Homo sapiens: one gene and its partners. The protein of the gene in region 1 purifies or fractionates together with the protein of each later gene. This does not show direct contact. Each region holds a gene or a part of one and is shown in the gene's direction. Other genes may lie near its edges.

Region 1 (4,768 bases):
TGGATCATCTGAGGTCAGGAGTTTGAGACCAACATGGTGAAACCCCATCTCTATTAATAATATCAAAGTTAGCCAGGCATGGTGGTGCATACCTGTAATCCCAGTTACTTGCAAAACCGAGGCAGGACAATTGCTTTAACCTGGGAGGCAGAGGTTGCAGTGAGCTGAGATCATGCCACTGAACTCCAGCCTGGGTGACAGAGTGAGACTCTGTCTCAAAACAAAACAAAACAAAACAAAACAAAAAACAAATAAAAAAATTATTTGCAGGCCATGCCTGGTGGCTCATGCCAACAATCCCAGCACTTTGGGAGGCTGACACAGGAGGATTGCTTGAGGCCGGGAGTTGGAGGTTACAGTGAGCTATGATTATTCCACTGCACTCCAGCCTGAGTAACAGAGTGAAACCCTGTCTCAAGAAAAAAAATTTTTTCCCCCTAAATTAGCTTCAGATACTTTTTTTTTGAAAACCAAAAAATAGTAAATAGCCCAGACACATTTATATGGATGATATCTACAAAGCACAAACATATATTTAGAAGCCCTTCAACAGTTACAAGCAGCGTAAAAGAGGAATGTAAATGTGTCCGGCAAAGACTCATTTATAACAAAACAACCCTGAAACATCCAAATAGGACTAATAAAAAGGGATCCTGGGATAAAGACTTTGGAATACTCCATTAACTTCACTGCTCACAAGTTCTGACTAGTTTCTTATAAGTAATAGGACATTTATAGCAGGATCTTTTATGTAAATCTCATGCCAGTAACTTGTACTTTTATCCTAAATAAAACTGTATGAGATTCTCATCTCACTACATAGGGTTACAAGTAACTTTTATGATATCTTTAAAAAGTTTCATGTTGAATATCACCTCCATAATTAAAAAATGGATGCATAGACTGAATTCATTCATTCATTTGACAAATATTCACTAAGCACCTACCACTTGTGAGATACTCTGTTAGGTGGGGATACAGTATGATAACTGTATGGAACTAACACTCCAAGTCAAACATTGAAGTCAAAATTCTGGGCTGGCGTACATTAGTTAGGAGCCCCCATTTTAGAAAATATTATTTCAAGCAGGCCTTGTTTTTATCCAGAGAGTGTATACAGTATAATAAAACTCAGTACACCAAGATTTATATTTCATGGCGTGTTTTTCTCCCTAAGTAGAGAAAAAGCTCCTTCAGTAAAGTGATTGTGTTGTCAACCACTGCATATTCTTAAGTGTACCAAGATGCTTGACTCCAGGCAGGTGCTAAGAGAGACTGTTGGGTGAGTGAATGTATATCAATGAAAATCAAACAGAGGAAATTTTCTTTATATGTTTTAGTGTTCCTGTGGTTTTTTTTTTTTTTTTTTTTTTTTTTTTTTTTTTTTTTTTTGTGATGGTTACTGGCTCTTCTCTAAGAATAATGGAGAAAAGGTGTTAGTTTGTACTGTCGCACAGGGCAGTCGTAGGAGACTCTGAAAAAGCAAATAAATCAATGTTAAATCAGAAATGTGAATGTAGTAAGGGGCTGAAGAGACAGGGGAAGAGAATACATGGGAAAATATTGAAAAGGACAGAGTGATCAAAAAGAGCAGGGACATGGGAGCATTGGGCAGCACACTGGGAGCCATTTCACTTTATGCTCTTATTGTATGATTGAGAAAAAAATGTCCTTAGTGGTTAAGTGGCTTTTCAATGCCACATCAGACTTGTTCCATAGCAGTTGAATTAGGGGAAGGTGAATAAGTTGGAGGTTGGTGACAAGGAGAGAAGCTGGAACAGAGAGGAGAGTCAGAACCAGAGGGAAATGAGAGACTGAGTAGGCATCTCAGGGTTTTTGAAGGAGTGGATTTTCTTTGTTGCAGTCAGGGGAGGTTTGTCTGTTGGCTGCAGAAAGAAGTCAGAATAGAGATATCGTGGGGTAGGTTTGTTTGGAACAGAAATCAAAGACCAATTTTTCTGAGAGAAGGAAATAACATCTGCAAATGATATGCTGTTTTTGCTACTTCCATTGTTAGCTGTTCTCCCAGGTGATGGCAATGCAGACGGTAAGAACTCTGACAACTGCCCAGTTGGGTGGTGGGTGAAGGTCTCTCTCTCTCTCTCTGTGTGTGTGTGTGTGTGTGTGTGTGTGTGTGTGTGTGTGTGTGTGTGGTTTCCCTAGCATATACCTGGAAAGTGAGAGTGCCAGGCTGGTTCCATTCTGACTATCCATGACTCCAGGTCCCTGAGCTCTTATGAAGGTGGTTGATAAGGCATGGGACTGTGTGGCAAGTGAATGTCTGCTAAGATCATGATGGATCCCCTTTTCTCCAGATTCTGAGTTCCCGCACTCTGGCACCTTTCTCTCTCCATCCTCTTTCTCAATGTCTTTCTCCCCATTCTATCTGTTCTTTTGTCGCAGGGCTCAAGGAGCCTCTCTCCTTCCATGTCACCTGGATCGCATCCTTTTACAACCATTCCTGGAAACAAAATCTGGTCTCAGGTTGGCTGAGTGATTTGCAGACTCATACCTGGGACAGCAATTCCAGCACCATCGTTTTCCTGTGCCCCTGGTCCAGGGGAAACTTCAGCAATGAGGAGTGGAAGGAACTGGAAACATTATTCCGTATACGCACCATTCGGTCATTTGAGGGAATTCGTAGATACGCCCATGAATTGCAGTTTGAATGTGAGTTCAGTTTTCTCCATGGAGAGTGGTGAGGTGGGAGAGAGGGGTTGTCTCAATGTTTCTTATTCCTTTAGGAAACAGCCTGACTCTCTTCTGTATCTTATTCTATTCTTTCCACCATAAAACTGCAATTGCATACTTTTGGGCAAGGGCTATCATCCAGACCTTAATTCTCCAAACACTTCTGCTACTTATGAACTCCTCTCTCATTGATTGCAGGGTTGTGCATTATTATCTTTTCTTACAGGTATCCCAGGACCACCCTTCTGCCTGCCCTACAACCAGATACCTTCAGCTTTCTCACTTTCTCATTCATTCTCTTCAGCAGTCTCTCTATATATACTCAATTGTAACCCATTGCATTTAATTCAACCTAAGTTGTTATAATCCCAGTTCTCTTACACCAGGTCCTTGCTCACCCACAGCATTCACATCACCTTCTTTGACCAGTTTGCCCTCTTCCTCATGTTATTAATCTTTTCCTCCACCTACAGCTCCCACCAATTCCTCTTTCTCTGAATCCCTGACCAAACCAAATTTTATTCCATTATGTCAAACCCTGCACACTTCCCCCTTCTGCTTCTATAATCTTTGCTTCTACTCATTTCATTTTATATTTTTTTCTCCCTCTTTCCTCTATTTCATAACCCCAGATCCTTTTGAGATACAGGTGACAGGAGGCTGTGAGCTGCACTCTGGAAAGGTCTCAGGAAGCTTCTTGCAGTTAGCTTATCAAGGATCAGACTTTGTGAGCTTCCAGAACAATTCATGGTTGCCATATCCAGTGGCTGGGAATATGGCCAAGCATTTCTGCAAAGTGCTCAATCAGAATCAGCATGAAAATGACATAACACACAATCTTCTCAGTGACACCTGCCCACGTTTCATCTTGGGTCTTCTTGATGCAGGAAAGGCACATCTCCAGCGGCAAGGTCAGTCCTGCACTCTCCCTCCAAGAAGTTTTGATTTGAAAATCATACCCTTCCACCACCTCCTTCCAATTTAGAATAAGGAAGAGCCACCCAGAAGTGGGAAAGGCTGGGTGCAGTGCCTCACATCTGTAATCCCAGTACTTTGGGAAGCTGAGGCTGGAGGACTTCTTAAGGGCAGGAGTCCCAGACCAGCCTGAGCAACAGAGTGAGACCAGTGTCTCTAAAAAATAAAAATAAGTTAGCCAGTCATGGTGGTACACACCTGTAGTCCCAGTTACTTAAGAGGCTGAGGCAGGAGGATCGCTTGAGCCTAACAGTTTGAGGTTACAGTGAGCTATAATTTATAATTATGCCACTGCATTGCAGCATAGTGACAGAGTGAGACCCTGTCTCAAAAAAAAAAAAAAGAGAAATGGGAACAATGTGTCTATCTAAACTTCTAAACTGTTGTGGAGATATGAAACTCCAAGTCTGTATTTGAATATCTTTTCTGTCCTTTGCAGTGAAGCCCGAGGCCTGGCTGTCCCATGGCCCCAGTCCTGGCCCTGGCCATCTGCAGCTTGTGTGCCATGTCTCAGGATTCTACCCAAAGCCCGTGTGGGTGATGTGGATGCGGGGTGAGCAGGAGCAGCAGGGCACTCAGCGAGGGGACATCTTGCCCAGTGCTGATGGGACATGGTATCTCCGCGCAACCCTGGAGGTGGCCGCTGGGGAGGCAGCTGACCTGTCCTGTCGGGTGAAGCACAGCAGTCTAGAGGGCCAGGACATCGTCCTCTACTGGGGTGAGAAAAAGCTAAGGCCCAGGCTGGAAATGCCAGGAAGTGGACCTCAGGCATAGAGGGAGGGCAAGCTGAAAATTTTAGGATTTTAGGGATTATAGCCCAAACATGAATAAAAATAGATAATCTAAGAAATGGAAATGTTGAAAATGAGGGCCCTGTAGATGCAGGAGGATGCTGAGGGTTAACTGAAGAATCCATCTCTGAGCAGGGATGAGAGAAAAACATAGAAAAAAAGGAGATTGGTAAGTTGGATACTCAAATGAAAAAAAGAAGCCCAGGGAATGCAGTGAAATAGGGAGTGGATGAGGTAAAATGGGATGGATTATAACATCCTTGGTGTCTCCCCAAATTCACAGAGCATCACAGTTCCGTGGGCTTCATCAT
Region 2 (2,848 bases), on another chromosome or scaffold:
AGTGTTGGGATTACAGGCGTGAGCCACCACATCCTGCCCCCTCCCATTCATTGGTTAATGCCCTATTTCGGTGCCATCTTTGTGTCTTGGACCTTTTTTCACCAGAGAAAGGTCCTGGAGGCTCCAAGTGGGGCCCTCTCCCTCTTGGACTTGTTTTCCACCCTCTGCAATGACCTTGTCAACTCAGCCCAGGGATTTGTCTCCTCCACCTGGACATACTACTTGCAGACTGACAATGGGAAAGTGGTGGTGTTTCAGGTGAGACCTCTGACAGGGGCCACGCCAGAGTGGCAGATGGGTGGGCAGGGTAAGAAGATGGGATGCATTGGCTCTTAGCTCATGAGATGCAAAGTCCACAGTGGGCGAGCTTCAGGCACAGCTGGATCCAGGGGCTCAGTGTCTCACTCCATGCCTTGACTCTGCTTTCTTTTGTGGTGGCTTCATTCCCAGGCATTTACTTCTTCTTGGCAGTAAGGTGGATGCCAGAGGCTCTAGGTTACAAACGCTGTGGTTTTTTTTTGTTGTTGTTGTTGTTGTTTTGAGATGGACTCCCATTCTTGTTGCCCAAGATGGAGTGCAATGGCATGATCTTAGCTCACTGCAACCTCCACCTCCCAGGTTCAAGTGATTCTCCTGCTTCAGCCTCCTGAGTAGCTGGGATTACAGGCGGCCACCACCACACCCACCTAATTTTTGTATTTTTAGTGGAGACGGGGTTTCGCCATGTTGGCCAGGCTGGTCTCGAACTCCTGACCTCAGGTGTTTCACCTGCCTCGGCCTCCCAAAGTGCTGGGATTACAGGCATGAGCCACTGCCCCGGCTCCCTCTGGGGTTTTAACTGAGCTGGGATTTACTCTGATTGGCCCTGGCTGGATCATATGACCATCTCTCAGGCAATTCACTGGCTTGGTCTGGATCATGTTCCTACTTCTGGAGCTAAAGGATGGGGTTAAGGCAAATGGAGGAGCCCATGAAAGCAGAAAACAACATCCCTGACATCAAGCCCACCCCTGATACCCAGGGGAACTGGGTATCAGCTGGGCGTGGGACATGGCAGTCACAGAGGGCCTGCCTGGGCCCAGGGGTGCTGTTCTCACAAGCCTCTCTGTGCTGTCTTGTTCCTGGCCCAGACTCAGCCCATAGTGGAGAGCCTCGGCTTCCAGGGGGGCCGTCTGCAGCGCGTGGAGGTGACCTGGCGAGGCTCCCACCCTGAAGCCCTGGAGGTGCACGTGGGTAAGGTGCAACCTAGACCAGTGTTCCTTCCATGGGTGGCCCCACTGCCACAAGGAGTCGGCCTGGCAAACAGACCTTCTAGGATCGGGATCTCCATCTCTCAAGTCCTGGGTTCCATGGCTCATCCCCCAGGTCTCCATGGTCTATTTCCCAGGGTTCCATGGTCCACCTCCCAGGGTTCCATGGTCCACTTCTCAGGGTTCCGTGGTCTACTTCCCAGGGTTCCGTGGTCCATCTCCCCGGGTTCCATGGTCTATTTACCAGGGATCCGTGGTCCACCTCTCAGGGTTCCGTGGCCCACCTCCCGGGTTCCGTGGCCACCTCCCAGGGTTCCGTGTTCCGCCTCCCAGCGTTCTGTGGTCCACCTCCCAGGGATCCATGGTTCACTTTCCAGGGTTCTGTGGCCCATCTCCCTGGGTTCTGTGGCCCATCTCCCAGGGTTCCATGGTTCATCTCTCAGAGTTCCATGGGTTCATCTCCTAGGGTCATCTCCTAGGGTCCATCTCCAAGGGTTCTTTGGTCCATCTCTCAGGGTTCCATGGTTCATCTCTTAGGATTCTGCAGTTCATCTCCCAGGGTTCTGTGGCCCATCCCCCAGGGTTCTGCAGTCCATCTCCCAGGGTTCCATGGTCCATTTCCCAGGGTTCCATGTTCCATCTCCCAGGGTTCCATGTTCCATCTCCCAGGGTTCCATGGGTTCATCTCCTAAGGGTCATCTCCTAGGATCCATCTCCCAGGGTTCCATGGGTTCATCTTCTAGGGTCATCTCCTAGGGTCCATCTCCTAGAGTTCTTTGGTCTATCTCTCAGGGTTCCATGGTTCATCTCCTAGGATTCTGCAGTTCACCCCCAGGGTTGCATGGTTCATCTCCTAGGATCCATCTCCCAGGGTTCCATGGTCCCTGTCTCAGCATTCTGTGGTCCATCTCCCAGGGCTCTGATCTCCATTCCAGGACTCTATGCCCCAGGTCCTGACCTCCTCCCTCCTGGTCATGGTTATTGTGGCCTCTTAGCAAAGACCTGGTGGTCGCTGAGTGGCAGCTGATCTCTCAGACCCTGTAGGCCCCCTGGACAAGGTGAGGAAGGCCAAGATCCGAGTCAAGACCAGCAGCAAGGCCAAGGTGGAGTCTGAAGAGCCACAGGACAATGACTTCCTCAGTTGCATGTCCCGGTGGGTGGCAGGACCTTGGGGGTGGGAGGGGGGTGGGACTGGAGGTACGGGTCTCCCTGGTCCCGGCCTGGGCAGCTGAGTGGTGCCTGCCGGGCGGGGCAGGCGCTCGGGTCTGCCTCGCTGGATCCTGGCCTGCTGCCTCTTCCTCTCCGTGCTGGTGATGCTGTGGCTGAGCTGCTCCACCCTGGTGACCGCGCCTGGCCAGCACCTCAAGTTCCAGGTGGGTGGGATCTGTGAATGGCGCTGGGCCGAGGGAGGGGGTGAAGGCAGAGAGAGCTGTTTGCTGGTCCTGGATTTGGCCACCTGCTCCCATGGAGGCCAGGACCTCAGACATTTTTTTCTTTTTTCATGTATATACATATATATACATATACGTGTGTGTGTGTGTGTGTGTGTGTGTGTATATATATATATATAATATATATATATATATTTTTTTTGAGAT
Region 3 (2,767 bases), on another chromosome or scaffold:
GACGCTGGGGCAGCTGCAGAAGATCACCCCCCACGTGAGTGTGGCCCAGTCCTCGTGGGCAGGCAGGGTTGAGGGCAATGCTGCTGCTGGGACTACAGGGTCATCTCTCCCCAGAGATGGGCAAACCGTTCCTTGGCCATGGACTCTCATGTCCCCTCGCTGCCTCTCTCTGCCCCCTCCCTGTCTTCTGTGGCCCCTGCCAACCCTAGCCTCACTGTCCCTGTCCTTGGTCTCACAGTTGCGGTGGAAGTGGCTGCTAGACCAGATCTTCCAGGAGGACTTCTCAGAGGAAGAGGAGGTGGTGCTGCTGGCGACAGACTACATGCAGCAGGTGTCGCAGCTCATCCGCTCCACACCCCACCGGTATGGCTGCAGATCTGGCATTTTCTGCCCAGCGGTCACTAGGTCCTTCCCCTGCACCCTGGACCTCTCTGCTGGGTGGGCTTTACATTTTCTGCTCTGCATAGCTGGGATGACCCCCTGTCCCTTCTTTGTGGGGCTGTCTGGGTCCTGGGTCCAGCCACAGGTTGGCGGGCACAGGTAGGGGTGGTGCCCTTGGTGGCCCACATGCATGTCCGTCTGGACACCCACTGGCTTCACCTGGTCCCCAGGGTCCTGCACAACTACCTGGTGTGGCGCGTGGTGGTGGTCCTGAGTGAACACCTGTCCCCGCCATTCCGTGAGGCACTGCACGAGCTGGCACAGGAGATGGAGGGCAGCGACAAGCCACAGGAGCTGGCCCGGGTCTGCTTGGGCCAGGCCAATCGCCACTTTGGCATGGCGCTTGGCGCCCTCTTTGTACATGAGCACTTCTCAGCTGCCAGCAAAGCCAAGGTGGGTTGCCCTTGTTTGAGAGAGGAGGATGGTGCTGAACTGAGGGTGGAGCCCTCCCGAGGCCATGGTCCTAATATGGGGAGCCCCACATGTCCCCTGCAGGCAGGGGGACCAGGCCCTGCTAAGTACTCAGCCGATTCTGAGGCCCCAGGCTGCTCCTCCACAGGCCTCCTCCTCCAGGAAGCTTATGTGGACTATCAACTGCAGGCAGACCTCCCTGCCAGGCCCCAGCCCACCTTCTCAGGCATGCTCGGGAGGCGTGGCCTTAGGGATGTCTGTGGTCATTGCTGGGGCAGTTTCCTCCTCTATCTTGTGAGCCCTCGGGGGTGCAGGGCCTGGATCCTCACCTCCAAAGTATCCTCTTGGTGTTCAGAAATGAGGTTTGGGCTTAGAAAGTGGTGCTTAAAGGCAGGGGTACCCCTCCTGCCAGGAGTGATAGACCAGGCTGCTGGGTTGACCCTTGCTCCCTGACCCCTGACCCTGCAGGTGCAGCAGCTAGTGGAAGACATCAAGTACATCCTGGGCCAGCGCCTGGAGGAGCTGGACTGGATGGACGCCGAGACCAGGGCTGCTGCTCGGGCCAAGGTGAGGGGGGACCCAGTGTCATTGGTTGGTCCCATATATATTGAGCACCTACTGTGTACCAGCGAAAGAGAACAAAAGGGACAAAGAGGCCTTCGTGGAGTTGACCAGGCCTGCCTCCCCCACTGTGAAGCCCACTCCCAGGCTGGCCTAGTGCTCCCTTCCTTGGTGGGTAGGGTGGGGGGCGGGGGGCTGTCTCCCGAGGCCTGGTGCCACCTTCACCTGCCCTCGGCCCGCAGCTCCAGTACATGATGGTGATGGTCGGCTACCCGGACTTCCTGCTGAAACCCGATGCTGTGGACAAGGAGTATGAGGTGGGCCCTGACCCTGCCTGCCCAGCCTGTCCACAGCCCCTCTACTAACGGCACTCAGGAGGGCAGGTGGCCTGCACGGCCAGGTTGTTGCCCAGTCTGCAGGTAGCCCTGCCCTGGCCTGCCGCTGAGTGTCGCCCGTGCCTCCTGCAGTTTGAGGTCCATGAGAAGACCTACTTCAAGAACATCTTGAACAGCATCCGCTTCAGCATCCAGCTCTCAGTTAAGAAGATTCGGCAGGAGGTGGACAAGTCCACGTGGGTGCCTGGCCCAGAGCTGGGGGTCAGGGAAGGGTTGTGGGGAAAGGGCAGGAGCTGGTAGGGCAAATCGTCTCACAGCCATGCAGATATGGGGGGCACACACGCCAGCACAGGGCATGGGGTGGGGGCCGGCAGGGTGACCCCCAGACTGTCAGGAGATGGCTGACGAGGAAGCTGTGATGTGAGGGTAGCGGGGGAGGGAGTGTGTTCCCCCCATTCACCCCAGCATCCCTCCACAGGTGGCTGCTCCCCCCACAGGCGCTCAATGCCTACTATCTACCCAACAAGAACCAGATGGGTAAGGGGATGTGTCCCTACGCCGGGCGGGGCAGGGTCCGAAAGTGGATGGGTTTCCCACTGAGCACCCCCTTCTTGTAGTGTTCCCCGCGGGCATCCTGCAGCCCACCCTGTACGACCCTGACTTCCCACAGTGAGTACATAGCTTGCCCTGTTTGTGGCTGAGGGCAGGGCTGGCATTGCAGACCTTGTCTACCAGGTGTGTGTCGGCGTACTGTGGCTCCAATCGCCCCAGACCCAGCTGGGTTCAGGAGTCAGGACAGCTGTGGACCCTGGCTCCCCACTACATCCTTGGTTATTTAGAAAAATGTGTAGGTTTGTTATTTGTAACTTCCTGGGGTCTTCTTTACTTGTTTGAGGCTCATTTTGATGTTTCAAAGGTGGCGCAACACTAATGATGAGGTAGGAGGAGAAACCCCTACGTAGGTGCCTCCGTTTCCCTCCTGTCTCCTCCAGCCCTGTTTCACTGCCCAGCCAGCTCTG
Region 4 (3,513 bases), about 41 Mb from region 1:
TCTTAGTCTGGAAATTGTATAAAGAGATTATAAACAGAGTTTGATCTTAGGCATCCAGGGTTCCTTTTCTTTCTCATTCCAGATCTGAATGTGTCTCACTGATAATTCTTTCCTTTTAATGGCAAAAGTAGAAAACAAGTTCCTGGGTTTAATGGAGAAACCTTTATGTTTTATATTTAAAGGTTGACATTCTTAAGTAGGCTCACTGTTACGTTTTATTTCCTTCTTTTCTCACAGGGAAGAGGAAGAACGTCTGAGAAATAAAATTCGAGCTGATCATGAGAAGGCCTTGGAAGAAGCAAAAGAAAAATTAAGAAAGTCAAGAGAGGAAATTCGAGCAGAAATTCAGACAGAGAAAAATAAGGTAGTCCAAGAAATGAAGATAAAAGAGAACAAGCCACTGCCACCAGTCCCTATTCCCAACCTTGTAGGAATACGTGGTGGAGACCCAGAAGATAATGACATAAGAGAGAAAAGGGAAAAAATTAAAGAGGTAATAAGCTGAGTTTTGTGATATGGAGTGTTTATGGATTTGTATTTGGATACAAACAAATATATATAATCTATGGTATCCTGTTTTGATCTGTTTATTCTTGGGTCATAGTTGTAGTATAGTTTCCAGGTTGGTAATAAGGACTAGAACTCTTTCTTGTTTTTTTTTTTAATGTTAATTATAATGTAATTATTGGACACTTAAAATATTTTTGATACAACTTTTGGATGGTTAGTGCCACTCATTCTTTGTTCAGAGATCTTTTGAAATTCAGCGTTTTATTAATAATATATCTGTATATAACTTATTGTCTAAGCAGTTTCTTAAATGTTCAGTTACAAAGGGACTCTGCTAGATACTATGCAGATCACCTCATAAACATGCTTCTAAAGAGCTAGCATTATATCTCCAATTTTTTAAGGAACATGTCATGGTATCCCTCAACTATACTGTAGATTAAGAACACATTCCTTCCAAAAAGTCTCCATGGATTGAAAAATGGGAAAGAATTGATTTCAAAATTCTTTAAATTTATTTAGCCTCAGAAGTCTTTCAATTTGTTATTCTGTAGTTACTTAAAAGTAAAGAGAATACCAGATGGGAAAAATCTAGTGAATATTTGGGTTAAACTTTGTTAATTAGAACTCCTAAAAATTCTGGGTGGAGTTTGTGATTATACTGCCTGTGAAGAAAAATATTTTATCAGAGTGTAATTGTACCAACAATATTTCAGAAGGTTTAATTATTATAAAGTAAGATAAATTTAGTTCAAGTAATCAAATATCTATTTGGATATATTCTAGTAATGGATATGGAAGGTATAGCAGATACTTTAAGCTTAGCCTTATGAATTATTATAAAACCTTGACCTTGATGGAGTAGAAATAGAGCTGTGCTCTGATTTTACCTCACCTCTAGAGTCTGTTTTATATGTAGACTACTTAAGGCACTTCCTTCGGACAGTGTTGGGAGAGACAGTGATAGATTTTTTTTCAGATGCCTGACTTGCTTTTTTTCAGATGTCATTACAATGTACTGAAATACTTTTTTCAAATACGTAATAATTCAGATAGATAACCATGTGTGTTCAGGGGACCCCCAGATGATCCTCAGGTTCAGTGACTCACCAGAAGTACCCACGGAACTCAGCATATAGAAACATGTTTTAGTTTGCTGAACTTTTATCCTGTTATTTTACTGAAGTTATTTATTCTTATAGCTTTTTTGTAGATTGCTTGTGATTTTTCTTATACGTAGTCATGTCTTCTGTGAAGAGATACTTTTACTTTTTCCTTCTTGATTTTTATACCTTTTATATTTTTTTTCTTGTCGTACTGCAGTGGCTAGGAGTTCTAATACATTGTTCAAAGTAAGTGGCGAGAATGGACATACTAGGTTTGTTCCCAACTTTAGGGGTTAAGCATCCAGTCTTTTGCCATTAACTATGTTGTGTCAACTGTAGGTTTTTTAAAGATGCTGTTTATTAGGTTGAGGATGTCTCCTTGTAATTGTAGTTTACTGAGAGTTTTATCATGAATGAGTGTTGAATTTTGTCAGATGCATTGTCTTCATTTTTCTCTAGATGACTGTATGATTTTTTTTCCTTTATTCTGTTAACATGGTAAATTACATTGTTTTTTGGATGTTAAATTAGTCTTATATTCCTGGGTTAAACTCCACTTTGTCGTGGTATGGTATCTGTCTTAGATGTTGCTAATTTTTCTTAAGGAATTTTGCATCTGTGTTCTTGAGATACATTGGTCTTGAGTTTTCTTGTAATATCTTTGCTTGATTTTGGTGTCTGATTAATGCTGGCTGCATAAAGCAAGTTGGGAAATGTTTAATGAATAGTATGCTGTTAAATGAATAGATTTTTGGTCTACTATTATATAATTCGTCTGATATATAATTAAATACTCTGCTATTGTATAACTCAGAACTCCTTGGGTTGTAAGACACTCAGCTCAAACTAAGTGATACAAATAGTATTTATTGGTTTAATGGCTCTAAACAAGGGCTTCAAGTTTGGCTGAATCCAAGCCTGTAGATATTATTGTGAGTGTTAAGCATCTGTCTCTCTTTCCTTTTGCTAGTTTCTCCATGCTGGCAGAGAGCCATTATCAGCTCCAGGATTATATATTACATAGACCATCAGATTGCAGAATAAAAAAGCCCTCTATCTCATGGTGTCAATAACAATATGTGTAAAAAGAACTTGATTGTTCCTACCTGAATCACATGTATCCACTCACTTTGTTTAGGGCAGGGGTTGACAGCTGCAACCTGTGGGCCAAATTCTGCTTGCTGTCTGTTTTTTAAAAATAAATTTTAGGCTGGGCATGGTGGCTCACACCTGTAATCCCAGCACTTTGGGAGGCCAAAGTGGGCGGATCATGAGGTCAGGAGATCAAGACCATTCTGGCTGACACGGTGAAACCCTGTCTCTACTAAAAATAACAAAAAATTAGCCAGGTGTGGTGGTGGGCACCTCTAGTCCCAGGAGGCTGAGGCAGGAGAATGGTGTGAACCCGGGAGGTGGAGCTTGCAGTGAGCTGAGCTGGTGTCACTGCATTCCAGCCTGGGTGACAGAGCGAGACTCCATCTCAAACAAAAAAAATAAATAAAATAAATTTTAATTTGAACACAACCATGTCCATTTACTTAGATATTATCTGGGACTGCTTTTATGCTGTAACAGCAGAGTTAGTTTGTTGATCTCTGGTCTAAGGATAGGGGATTTTCTAGCTAGGGTGAGTTAATTGGTGGTAGAAGCAGAGCCTCTTGATTGACAGCTCTGTTATATGTGAGGAAAGGAGAGCTGTCCCCAAAAAGACTTAACATTTCTCAAAAGGAAAGAATGCCAAACAAATATGTACCTCCTGAAGAAAGAAGACTTTTCTATTATGCCCATTTTTTTCCTGTCATATAGATGAGATTAAACATAGTTATGTATGTTTTCATACTGATACAAATGCTAATTGAATAATGTACTAATATAGATCTGGAAGAATGGGCAAGGA

The links. The genes of interacting proteins can lie anywhere in the genome.
Region 2: the proteins of CD1A (region 1) and TMEM59L purify together in Homo sapiens (affinity purification with mass spectrometry; one large-scale study listed by BioGRID and IntAct). This does not show direct contact.
Region 3: the proteins of CD1A (region 1) and ECEL1 purify together in Homo sapiens (affinity purification with mass spectrometry; one large-scale study listed by BioGRID and IntAct). This does not show direct contact.
Region 4: the proteins of CD1A (region 1) and MAN1A2 purify together in Homo sapiens (affinity purification with mass spectrometry; one large-scale study listed by BioGRID and IntAct). This does not show direct contact.

The regions. Positions count from the first base shown.
Region 1 is NC_000001.11:158,252,681-158,257,448, forward strand, and holds the start of CD1A (T-cell surface glycoprotein CD1a isoform 1 precursor), read left to right. Parts: upstream 1-1,743; 5' UTR 1,744-1,989; coding exon 1,990-2,047; intron 2,048-2,403; coding exon 2,404-2,670; intron 2,671-3,323; coding exon 3,324-3,602; intron 3,603-4,105; coding exon 4,106-4,384; intron 4,385-4,740; coding exon 4,741-4,768. UniProt on the Homo sapiens protein: Antigen-presenting protein that binds self and non-self lipid and glycolipid antigens and presents them to T-cell receptors on natural killer T-cells.
Region 2 is NC_000019.10:18,615,870-18,618,717, forward strand, and holds part of TMEM59L (transmembrane protein 59-like precursor), read left to right. Parts: intron 1-105; coding exon 106-258; intron 259-1,130; coding exon 1,131-1,233; intron 1,234-2,285; coding exon 2,286-2,403; intron 2,404-2,505; coding exon 2,506-2,623; intron 2,624-2,848. UniProt on the Homo sapiens protein: Modulates the O-glycosylation and complex N-glycosylation steps occurring during the Golgi maturation of APP. Inhibits APP transport to the cell surface and further shedding.
Region 3 is NC_000002.12:232,482,068-232,484,834, reverse strand, and holds part of ECEL1 (endothelin-converting enzyme-like 1), read left to right. Parts: coding exon 1-34; intron 35-238; coding exon 239-363; intron 364-611; coding exon 612-834; intron 835-1,320; coding exon 1,321-1,419; intron 1,420-1,655; coding exon 1,656-1,730; intron 1,731-1,880; coding exon 1,881-1,984; intron 1,985-2,226; coding exon 2,227-2,285; intron 2,286-2,365; coding exon 2,366-2,417; intron 2,418-2,767. UniProt on the Homo sapiens protein: May contribute to the degradation of peptide hormones and be involved in the inactivation of neuronal peptides.
Region 4 is NC_000001.11:117,401,949-117,405,461, forward strand, and holds part of MAN1A2 (mannosyl-oligosaccharide 1,2-alpha-mannosidase IB), read left to right. Parts: intron 1-237; coding exon 238-493; intron 494-3,513. UniProt on the Homo sapiens protein: Involved in the maturation of Asn-linked oligosaccharides. Progressively trim alpha-1,2-linked mannose residues from Man(9)GlcNAc(2) to produce Man(5)GlcNAc(2).